2 separate regions of the Homo sapiens genome follow, and region 2 is linked to region 1. The links come from fine-mapping of genetic effects on gene expression. A gene starts in region 1. The other region holds a variant in brackets. All regions are shown on one strand. Distances are from middle to middle.

Region 1 (5,516 bases):
TCCCCAGTGACTCCTGCAGATAACAGCACTAGCAGCACTGTGGAACCTAAGACCGGCCTTCTGAGCTGTGTCTTTTCAGGGTTTTTGCATGTCTGATCAATGGCTCTACCTGAAACCAAAAAGAGCTCCCCGCAGCCCCAGCCAGAAGTGACTCAGTAAGCAGGACCGTTTCCCACACCCCTATGATTGCACCTCAACCAATCAGCAGCAAGCACCCGTTGCCTAGCCACCCTCCCCTTTCCCCAAACTATCCTTGAAAAACCCCGCCTCCAAATTTTTGGGGAAGCTGATTTAGTAATAAAACTCGGCCGGGCGCGGTGGCTCATGCCTGTAATCTCAGCACCTTGGAGGCCAAGACAGGCAGATCATGAGGTCAGGAGATCGAGACCATCCTGGCTAACACAGTGAAACTCCATCTCTACTAAAAATACGAAAAATTAGCTGGGTGTTGTGGCGGGCGCTTGTAGTCCCAGCTACTCGGGAGGCTGAGGCAGGAGAATGGCGTGAACCCGGGAGGCGGAGCTTGCAGTGAGCCAAGGTTGCACCACTGCACACCAGCCTGGGAGACAGAGCGAGACTCCATCTCAAACAACAATAATAATAACAGTAAAACTCCAGTCTCCACTTTAGCTGGCTCTACATGTGTAAAACTTTCTCTATTGCAACCCTCCTGCCCTGATAAATCAGCTCTATCCGGGTAGTGGATAAAATGAACCCATTGGGCAGTTACATCAGTAACCATGTGTCACTCTACAGTGGGTTTGTTTTTTTTGCCACAGGGTCTCGCTCTGTTCAGGCTGGTATCACAGCTCACTGCAACCTCCACTTCCTGGGCTCAAGTGATCCTCCCACCTCAGCCTCCCGAGTAGCTGGGACTACAGGCACGCGCCACCAGGCCCAGCTAATTTTTGTATTTTTGTAGAGATGGGGTTTCACCATGTTGGCCAGGCTGGTGGTGTGACCTCAAGCGATCTGCCCGCCTCAGCTTCCCAAAGTGCTGGGATTACAGGTGTGAGCCACCGCGCCCGGCCAGGGTTTGTCTATATATCCTTATATAGATATGTTACTTGTAAAATGAGTTGCAATGTCTTGAGGAATTGCTACAGCAAATAAATAGATAAGCTGCTAAAGTGTATACGTATTTTATTAAGAAATGTCCACATAGGCCAGGCGCGGTGGCTCACACCTGTAATCCTAGCACTTTGGAAGGCCGAGACAGGCGGATCACATGAGGTCAGGAGTTCGAGACCAGCCTGACCAACACAGTGAAACCCGTCTCTACTAAAAACACAAAAGTTAGCCGGGCGTGGTGGTGTGCGCCTGTAAGCCCAGCTACTCAGGAGGCTGAGGCAGAAGAACCGCTTGAACCCGGGAGGCGGAGGTTGAAGTGAGCCGAGATCGCGCCACTGCACTCCAGCCTGGGTGACAGGACCAGACTACATCTCAAAAAAAAAAAAAAAAAAAAGAAATGTCTGCATAAATTCAAAGACGAAAAATGGGGGAAGAAATGCAGGACTGCCTTAAGGATGAAACCAAAAGAGAAGATGGAGAGAACATCTGGCTGGGTTTAGGTCGTGGTTCTGCCATGTGGCTTCCCTACTTTCTTTTAGGCAACAGATTCAATGGGCACCTGTTATAGGCCAAGCATTATCGCGGGGCCTGGGGATCCAAGATTAATTAGTAAACAGACGCTGGACAATATAGTCTGGAGAAAAACCCAAGTTACCTGCTGCTTACTTTGGGCAGGCCCTTTGGCTTTCTGTAAAACAGGAATAACCACCCCTACCTTGGAAAGCTGCTATTAGGATGAAGTGAAATATAATCTTCAAGATCACAGCATGTGGCATTATGCAAAATCCAGGGTGCCCCCTTCACCACCAGACTCACTCTCAAGTCACTTCACAAGTACTAGATACAAAAAAGACAGGTCTCTACGCTCGATCTACAGGAGAAGCCAGGTTTGCTAACAATTACAAAATAGCGTACCACGTGTAAAAGTCCAGTTAACAGAATGCGGGGGAGTTCAGAGGCCACCTAGTATGTTGGTGTGGCCAGGAGAAGGGGGAGTTGGAAGGCGGCATCTGCTTCCCAGGGGTGATGCCCCCCGCAGCTGGCTCCTTTCAGCCTTGTAGGAATTCCCTGGGCCCAGTGCCCCAGGGGGCGTCACTAGGAACTGCTCGGCCCCGAGAGGGGTTCCTTCTCCAGGGCTACTCCAAGGCCCCATCCCGCCCCGCCCGGGCAGCCCCCGCTGACCTTGAGCGAGGCCAGGTGGGCGATGTCGGGGCTGAGTTCTCGGAGGCAGTTGTCAGCAGCCGCCAGTTCACTGAGCAGGGGCAGCGCGCCGGGGCGAAAGAGCTCGGCGGGAAAGGAGTCTAGGCAATTGCCGGTGAGGTTGAGGCTCTGCAGGCGCGGGGCGCAGCGCGCCAGGTCGGCTGGCAGCTCGCGCAGCCGGTTGCCGCTGAGGTTGAGGCTCTGCAGCTGCGGAAGGCCCGGCGGCTCGGCGGGGCCCAGGCCTTGGCCCGGCGGCAGCGCCTCCAGCGCGTTGCCCGACAGGTCGAGCACCCGAAGGGCAGGCAGCGGCCCGAGCTCGGGGCTCAGGCCGGGCCCCAGCGCGTTGCGCCGCAGCACGAGGCTGTGCAGCTGCGGCAGGCCCTGCGCCAGGCCAGGCCCCGGCGCGCGCAAGCTCCCGCAGCCGCTCACTTCCAAGTAGTGCAGCAGCGGCAGGGTGAAAAGCCGCGGCGGCAGCTGCCCACCCGCCGCCCGCACTCGCTCCTCCAGCCCGGGCCCCGTCAGCAGCAGCTCCCGCCGCCGCTCGCGCTCAGCCAGCTCCAGCTCCGGCCAAGACTCTGACACCGCTGCCGCCGCCATGGCGCCTCAGCTGCTGGCAGGCACCCACCCACCAGGGTGCTTCCGGGGCAGCGCGCGCCACTTCCGACCTGTGCCGGAAAAGCCCATAGAGAAGCCACCTGGCTGCTAGAGTGCCGCCGCGCGTGCCATAGAGGAGAGTGGCCTCTCCTGCGTAGAGCCGGGGAGGGGCTGGAGAGCGGCTCGCTCTCTCCGCGGGTAGGGGTGAGGGTGGGGGTTATGAACCCAAAAATATCTGAGACAGGACTCAATGAAATGTAAAAAGTTTATTTTGCCAAGGTTAAGGACACGCCAGTGTCACAACCCTAGGAGATCGTGACGATGGTGCCCAGGGAAGTTGGGATGCAGCTTGGTTTTGTACATTTTGGGGAGACGTGAGACATCAATCAACACGTGCGAGTGTACCTTGGTTCAGCCCAGAAAGGCTGGACAATTCCAGGAGAGGGCTTTCAGGTCACAGGTAGAGAAGAGACCGGAGGGTGCATTCTTTTGAGTCTTTGTTCAGCCTTTCGCTGACTGCACAATTTATTATGCATGTGAGACGCGGGTAGAGGAATAGTCGCTTATGCTTTAGTCTGGCTTACTGAATCTTCATTTCTACGTAAACAGTAGAGCAAAGGAAGCGATCAGATATGCATTTGTCTAGGTGAGCAGAGGGATGGCTTTGAGTTCAGTCCTTTGTCTCGCACCTGTGAAGGGAAGCTATCAATTTGCATTGCCAGGGTGAAATTCAACAGAACTGTTTTAGGGTAAAGATCTTGAGGCCCACAGAGAATTTCTTTGTGGGCAAATTGTGAGGGAGGTGTGTAGCTTTAAAAATATGTATTTGTAACTATCTTATTTAGGAATAAGACGGGAGGCCGATTTGCCCGAAGCAGTTCCCAGCTTGACTTTTTCCTTTGACTTAGTGATTGTGGGGTTTTGAGATTTATTTTCCTTTCACAGGGTGGGGTGCGGGCGGATGGAGGAGCCAGAGTCTGTGCTCTACTGTGCCCCGACCGGCTTGTTTTGGAATTCCTGCACTTTTGAGTGGTGTAAACCAAAACCAAAATTCTTTTTTTTTTCTTGAGACGGAGTCTCGCTCTGTCACCCAGGCTGGAGTGCAGTGATGCTATCTTGGTTCACTGCAACCTCCGCCTCCTGGGTTCAAGCAATTCTCCTGCCTCAGCCTCCCGCTGGAACTACAGGTGCATGCCACCGTGGCCGGTTAATTTTTATATTAACCGTGTTAATATAATTTTTATATTAACCGGTTTTCGCCATGTTGGCCAGGCTGGTCTCGAACACCTGACCTCAGGTGATCTGCTCGCCTCAGCCCCCCAAAGTGCTGGGCTCACAGGCACAAGCCACCGCACCCAGCCCCCAAATTCTTATTTATTTATTTATTTATTTATTGAGACAGAGTCTTGCTCTGTTACCCAGGCTGGAGTGCAGTGGTTCCAGCTCGGCTCATTGCAGCCTCAACTTCCCTGGCTCCAGTGATCCTCCCACCTCAGCCCCTGAGTAGCTGGTACCACAGGCATGTGCCACCACGCCTGGCTAATTTTTGTATTTTTTGTAGAGCTGGGGTTTTGCCATGTTGCCTAGGCTGGTCTCAAACCCATGAACTCAAGCAATCCACCTGCCTCAACCTCCCAAATTGCTAGGATTACAGGTGTGAGTCACCAAACCTGGCCAAAAAATAAAATTCTAGAGGCTGGGCACGGTGGCTCATGCCTGTAATCCCAGCACTTTGGAAGGCCGAGGCGGGCGGATCACCAGGTCAGGAGATCGAGACCATCCTGGTGAACACGGTGAAACCCCGTCTCTACTAAAAATACAAAAAAAATTAGCCGGGCTTGGTGGCAGGCGCCTGTAGTCCCAGCTACTCGGGAGGCTGAGGCAGGAGAATGGCAAGAACCCAGAGGGCGGAGCTTGCAGTGAGCGGAGATTGCGCCACTGCACTCCAGCCTGGGCGACAGAGTGAGACTCCGTCTCAAAATAAATAAATAAAAATAAAATAAAATTCTAAGCCCCCCAACCATCTGAGTGGACCCCTCCTCTGGGCCAAGGGCATTCCCTAGTTAATCTGAAAAACTAGTTCAGGCCATGATGGGAAGGGTCGGATGTGGAGGGGTAGGGGTTGGACATGCCTCATTATATTCTCCTCCCTTTGGGAATTCAGGCCCACCTGACCATCATTAATATCAACACAGACTTTAAGACTGACAAAGCCAGGCCAGGTGTGGTGGCTCATGGCTGTAATCCCAGCACTTTGAGAGGCCATGGCGGGTGGATCACTTGAGGTCAGGAGTTTGAGACCAGCCTGACCAACATGGTGAAAACCCATCCCTACTAAAAATACAAAAATTAGCTGGGCATGGTGGCGGGCGCCTGTAATCCAAGCTACTCGGGAGGCTGAGGCAGGAGAATTGCTTAAACCTAGGAGGCGGAGGTTGCAGTGAGCCAAGATTGCACCACTGCATTCCAGCCTGGGTGACAGAGCGAGACTCCATCTCAAAATAACAACAACAATAAAAGACTGACAAAGCTGACTCTTTGTAGCAATGATACCAAATTCTAGCCTGTTTCTAGTAGAGCATTATGTGACTGATCAAGGCCCTGAAGGAAATTGAAGTATTTTACCCCAAATTATATTTCCTTGCTGTATC
Region 2 (5,000 bases), 29 kb before region 1:
CTGCTGCATCCCACACCTTTTGCTTTCTTGCCCTCTTCACTTATTTTTGGTGGAGCACATCCTCCAGTAGTTTTATCAAAAAGGATAAATGAGGCTGAGCACGATGGCTCACACCTGTAATCCCAGCACTTTGGGAGGCTGAGGCAGGTGGATCACCTCAGGTCAGGAGTTCAAGACCCGCCTGACCAATATGGTGAAACCCCAGCTCTACTAAAAATACAAAAATTAACCGGTGTGATGGTGGATGCCTGTAATCCCAGCTACTCAGGAGGCCAAGGCAGGAGAATCGCTTGAACCCAGGAGAAGGAGGTTGCAGTGAGCCAAGATTGCACCATTGCACTCCAGTCTGGGCGACAAGAGCAAAACTCCATCTCAAAAAAAAAAAAAAAAACGATGAACAGGGGTAAAGTTTTGGGGACAGGATATGTTGGCAAATGTCCTTACTCTATACCCTCATAACATCTGGGTTGGATATAGCATTCCTGTTTGAAAACCATTTTCCTTCAGCATCACAGAGGCCTTCCTCTGTTGTCTTCCAGGTTGGCCGATGATAAGTCCAAAGTCGTTCATGGTTCCTTCTGGGTTGGTTGTTCCTCTCTGGAAAGTTGTAAGATCCTATCTTTGTCCCAGGTGATCTGAAACCTCCCAGAGTTGTGCTTTATTGAGGGTGTGTTTTCATCTGTTGTATTGGGCACTCAGTGGCCATCTGGAAACTCATGTCCTTTAGTTCTGGAATTTTCTTTGGTTTTATTGTTTTTTTATGGCCTTCTCTCACACTATTGGACCTCCTGTCCCGCTCTTGTTTTATCTGTTATCTCAACCTTTTTGTCTCTTTGTCTCTTACCGATACTTTCTAGAAGATTTCCTTAACTTTATCAACAGCTCTTTTCATTTTGTTATAATATTTTACTCTGATGTTCTCTGAGTGTTCCATTTTTCTTTTTTTGAAGCGCACTCTTGTTTGGCTTCACAATTGCAGTATTTTCCCTTGATGACAGCGTTCATCATACTGTTAGTTTTCTAACTTCTTGCACCACTTCTATTTCCTACAAGTTTGCTTTTGGTGTCTGTCATTCATCTGAGAGCTTTGCTCCAATGTTCGAGTTGACTGGACTCTGAGCACACAGGTGACCACTCTGTGCTCCCTGGCAGAGCAGTGTGCTTTGCTTTGGCATTTTAATGGAGAGTTTCTTTTCTTTTCTTTTCTCCTTTTTTTTTTTTTTCTGAGATGGGTTCTCACTCTGTCACCCAGGCTGGAGTTCAGTGGTGTGATCACAGCTCACTGCAGCCTCAGCCTCTCCAGAGTCGGGTGATCCTCTCGCCTCAGCCTCCTGAGGAGCTGGGACCACAGGTGCACACCACCACACCCAACCAATGTTCTTATTTTTTGTAGAGATAGGATCTATGTTACCCACGCTTCTCTCAAATTCCCGACCTCAAGTGATCCACCCACCTCAGCCTTCTAAAGTGCTGGGATTACAGGTGTGAGCCACTGCACGTGGCCTAGGGCTCTTCATTTCTGAAATAACATTCCACCAATCATCCTCATTTTAGCCTCCATGTTTAGAAGAACCCAGACCAACAATGTCTGAGACTTTTAGGAACTCAAGTGTGAATTGGGCTTATTTTCTGCTTTTCCTACTGCCGGCTATTTGGCTTTCTTGGATCTGGGATGTCAGATACCACTCAGCCACCTTCAAACTCTCCAAAATATTTTTAGTCCTTTTTCTTCTTCTCTTCTCCCTGCCTTCAATAGAAATCCCGCTGCTATTATTTTAGGGAGCTTTGGGGAAGGAAAAAAGTTAGATGCCGGAATTCAGTCTGTTATCTAAACCTGGGAGTCCCCCAAGCCAACCCTTCTGTCTCCTTCCAGTTCTCCAACCTCCGAGAAGATAAGAAACACCAAGAGATGATGGGGCTCATTGAAAAGGACAACCAGCTCCTCCGACAGGTGACAGCCTGGGTGTCGTTAAATGATCAGCCAGGCCACTGTTCTTACTGTAAGTCCCAACACAGCAAAGGGCAAGACGGGGCTGGAGCGTCTTCACAGCTGAGCCAGGACCCCTTCGGTAGCATGCCACTCGACAGATCTCTGCACCCCACGTCCACACAGAAGGCTCCTCGCAATTGCTGGGTCCAGACTGGACTGGAGGGACCCAGCAAGCGTTCCCAGTCCTTTTTTTTTTTTTTTTTTTTTTGAGACAGAGTCCTGCTCCGTCACCAGGCTGGAGTGCAGTGGTGTGATCTCAGCTCACTGCAACCTCCGCCTCCTGG[G/A]TTCAAGTGATTCTCCTGCCTCAGTCTCCCGAGTAGCTGGGACTACCAGCACTTGCCATCATGCCCAGCTAATTTTTGTATTTTTAGTAGAGACAGGGTTTCACCATGTTGGTCAGGCTGGTCTCAATCTCTTAACCTCGTGATCCGCCCACCGCAGCTTCCCAAAGTGCTGGGATTACAGGCGTGAGCCACTGCACCTGGCCGCCGGCCATCTTTTAGGAAAAAGTGGATGGGTGCCACACATACTCAGGTTGGGCGAAATGACCCCACCTCTTTTTTCTCCCCGGCTGTCCCCAGCAAGTGTCGGAACTGGAGAGAAAGCTCACCAAGCGGGACTGTGTCATCTCAGAGTTGGACACCAAGGTCAGCCAGCTGCAGGAGCAGGTGGAACTGGACCAGAACCACCTGCAGAGGTGGAAGCAGCTGCAGGAGGATTTGCAGAGCAAGAAGGAGATGATTCAGCAGGCAGAGCAGCACACCCGCGTGGCCCTGGAGAGCTCCCAGTCCAGGGTATGCCCAGCCCTTCCTCCTGAGGGTCTGTCCCAGCAGCTGGCGGCCGAGCACCCAGGCCTCTGCCCACCGCCCACCGAGGTAGAACCGGGGTCTGTGTACGCTGGGGCTCGGGCTGGTTCTGCCGTGTACACCAGCATCCACACAGAGTTGACACTCAAGAAATGTGGGTAGAGGACGGAGTGAGAGTGCAACAGAGTAGCCCGGAAATGTTCGTCAATGGCAGTGGTGGGCGGAGCCCCATGGGCAGGGCTGCGGGTCTTGGGTTGCATTGTGAAGGGGTTGGATCACTGGCTGGAAAGGAGGAGGGCACCTGGATAGGGAGGCATGGTGTTGCCCCCCTCATCTCTGAGTCATAGCGTGCTTGCTGGACCAGGCACCATTCTAAGTACCTTCTTGGTATCAAAGTCATGTAGCTCCTTTAACCAGACTGCGAAGTAGTTATCATGATCCTCACTTAGTAGACAAATAGGAAAGGATGAACAGTCCCCCTGGACAGCAGACCTGCTTTGCGGTGGTGCTGGGATTTGGCAGTCTCAACTGCAGGGCTCCACTGGGGTGTCATATGAAACGTGAGCAAGGCCAGAGTGTGCCCTGCTTGTGAGGGCCCCATGCCAAAAAGGAAATCAATAAAGAGCTGACCTTTTTTTTTTTTTTTTTTTTTTCTGAGACAGGGTCTTTCTCTGTCATCCAGTCTGGAGTGCAGTGGGGTGATAACAGCTCACTGCAGCCTTGGCCTCCCAGGCTCAAGCTGTCGTCATCCCACCTCAGCCTCCTGAGTAGCTGGGACCACAGGCATGTGCCACCATACCTGGCCAATTTTAAAAGCTTTTTGTAGAGACGGTCTCACTATGCTGTCCAGGCTGGTCTTGAACTCCTGGGCTCCAGCAATCTGCCTGCCTTGGCCTCCCGAAGTGTTGGGAATACAGGTGTGAGCTACCGTGCCTGGCCCTGACCTTGATTTAGAATCCAAAATTAAGCAAAGGTCAAGGTCATGTATGGAGGCTTTTGAAGTCAGGTTCCCACCAGAAATGCCAACTGCAACTCAACTGCGTCCTCTTTCCTGCTTGAGTCCACCTCCTTCCGGCTGGGTCAGACTGAGGCACCCACCCCTGGTATCCCTTGATAAAACAGTTTGGGATCCAGCCGTAGTCCTGGTGAAAGCGTTAGACCAGAGGCGGTCTAGGTGTGTCCATTTGTGCGCCAGCCTGCACTGACCTGGTGGAGCCTGGAAAGCTGAGCTGAGAAATATTGTGAAGCTAAGTCCGGGTGAGCAGGAACTAGCGCCAAGCCTGATGGTGAGGCCCCACGGGTGTGGGGAAGTGAGGCTGGACACCCCGGGTAGCTGCCAACCTCTACCCTGGGGAGGGACCCCCAGTACAGAGGCCCAGCCCCTTGTGACCTCACGACCTCCAGCACCTGGCACGGTGTTTGTACAAAGTTGGGCGCTCAATAAATACTGGAAAGAAGGAAAGGATTCCACTCCTCACACAGGCCAGGGGCCCATGACATTCCTGCTGTCACTTAAACCTGTCCGAGCGGCAGTGTGGACATGCTTCCACTCGGAGGCAAGGCTGAGCCTCTCGGGCCCAGCTCCTGTGGGGCACCTCTGCGTCGTCAGGGTTTCTGGACGAGGAACTCGTGCTGAGCGTGCCGCATAACTCAAGGGGTTCCTGTCTGAGGCTCCTGGGGTGCAGATTGGAGGGGTTTCCTCTGCAGCTTCCTGGGAGGCACGATTAGCTACCTCTGGGGAGGCGGCTGCGGGTGTACAGGCAGACAAGGATCTTCATGGCAGCAGAAGACGAGAACGCCTTCTGGGTCTGTGCGCGGGGGCCAGGTTCAACGCTGCTGTCCATGGCACAGACACCTCCTAGTCAGCATGGAAAGGAGGAAGCACCAGCAGCGCACTGTTAAATGCCTAAAGTGAGAGTGTCCCCAAGGGCCAGGAAGTCCGCTCACTGCAGCTCCCCTGGGCAGTGGAGGATGGTCCAGGGGTTACGTGCGGCTTCTGTACTATTTTGGTTTGTTGGTTTAAAAATATATATATATGTGTGTGTAGGTTTTACTTTCCAATTAGAAAAGCCCACCTGGTGTAGGAGAGTCTTTGGGCTTTGGGGCTGGGCCGCACAGGGTCAGGGGTTGGATCCGGCACCTCCTAGCTCTCAGACAATCCACATTGACTTCTCTGACACCTGTTTCCAGTTTCTAAAGCCATG

Alleles and levels. Alleles are on the strand shown, and positions count from the first base shown. SD is a standard deviation of normalised expression in the study named.
For the expression in subcutaneous fat of the gene that starts at base 2,890 in region 1, A is the low allele of the variant in region 2 and G is the other (small effect, 0.38 SD a copy in FUSION).

What was found. PIP is the estimated chance that this variant, and not a neighbour inherited with it, causes the effect. A credible set is the group of variants that fine-mapping cannot tell apart.
Region 2: its variant is the best candidate, but not a certain one, in a credible set for the expression of LRRC47 in subcutaneous fat (FUSION, PIP 0.51).

What each region holds. Positions count from the first base shown.
Region 1 is chr1:3,793,609-3,799,124 of GRCh38, forward strand. It overlaps LRRC47 (leucine rich repeat containing 47), which reads right to left and starts at 2,890. Exons shown (of 7, transcript NM_020710.3): 1 at 2,254-2,890. The coding sequence starts at 2,868. RefSeq lists enhancers at 1-436, 2,777-3,071 and a silencer at 2,452-2,661.
Region 2 is chr1:3,764,662-3,769,661 of GRCh38, forward strand. CCDC27 (coiled-coil domain containing 27) reads left to right here. Exons shown (of 12, transcript NM_152492.3): 9 at 1,874-1,951; 10 at 2,572-2,784. Among named protein-coding and RNA genes, the nearest start is that of SMIM1, 5.6 kb to the right of the region's middle. The variant G/A (reference allele first, on the strand shown) is at 2,275.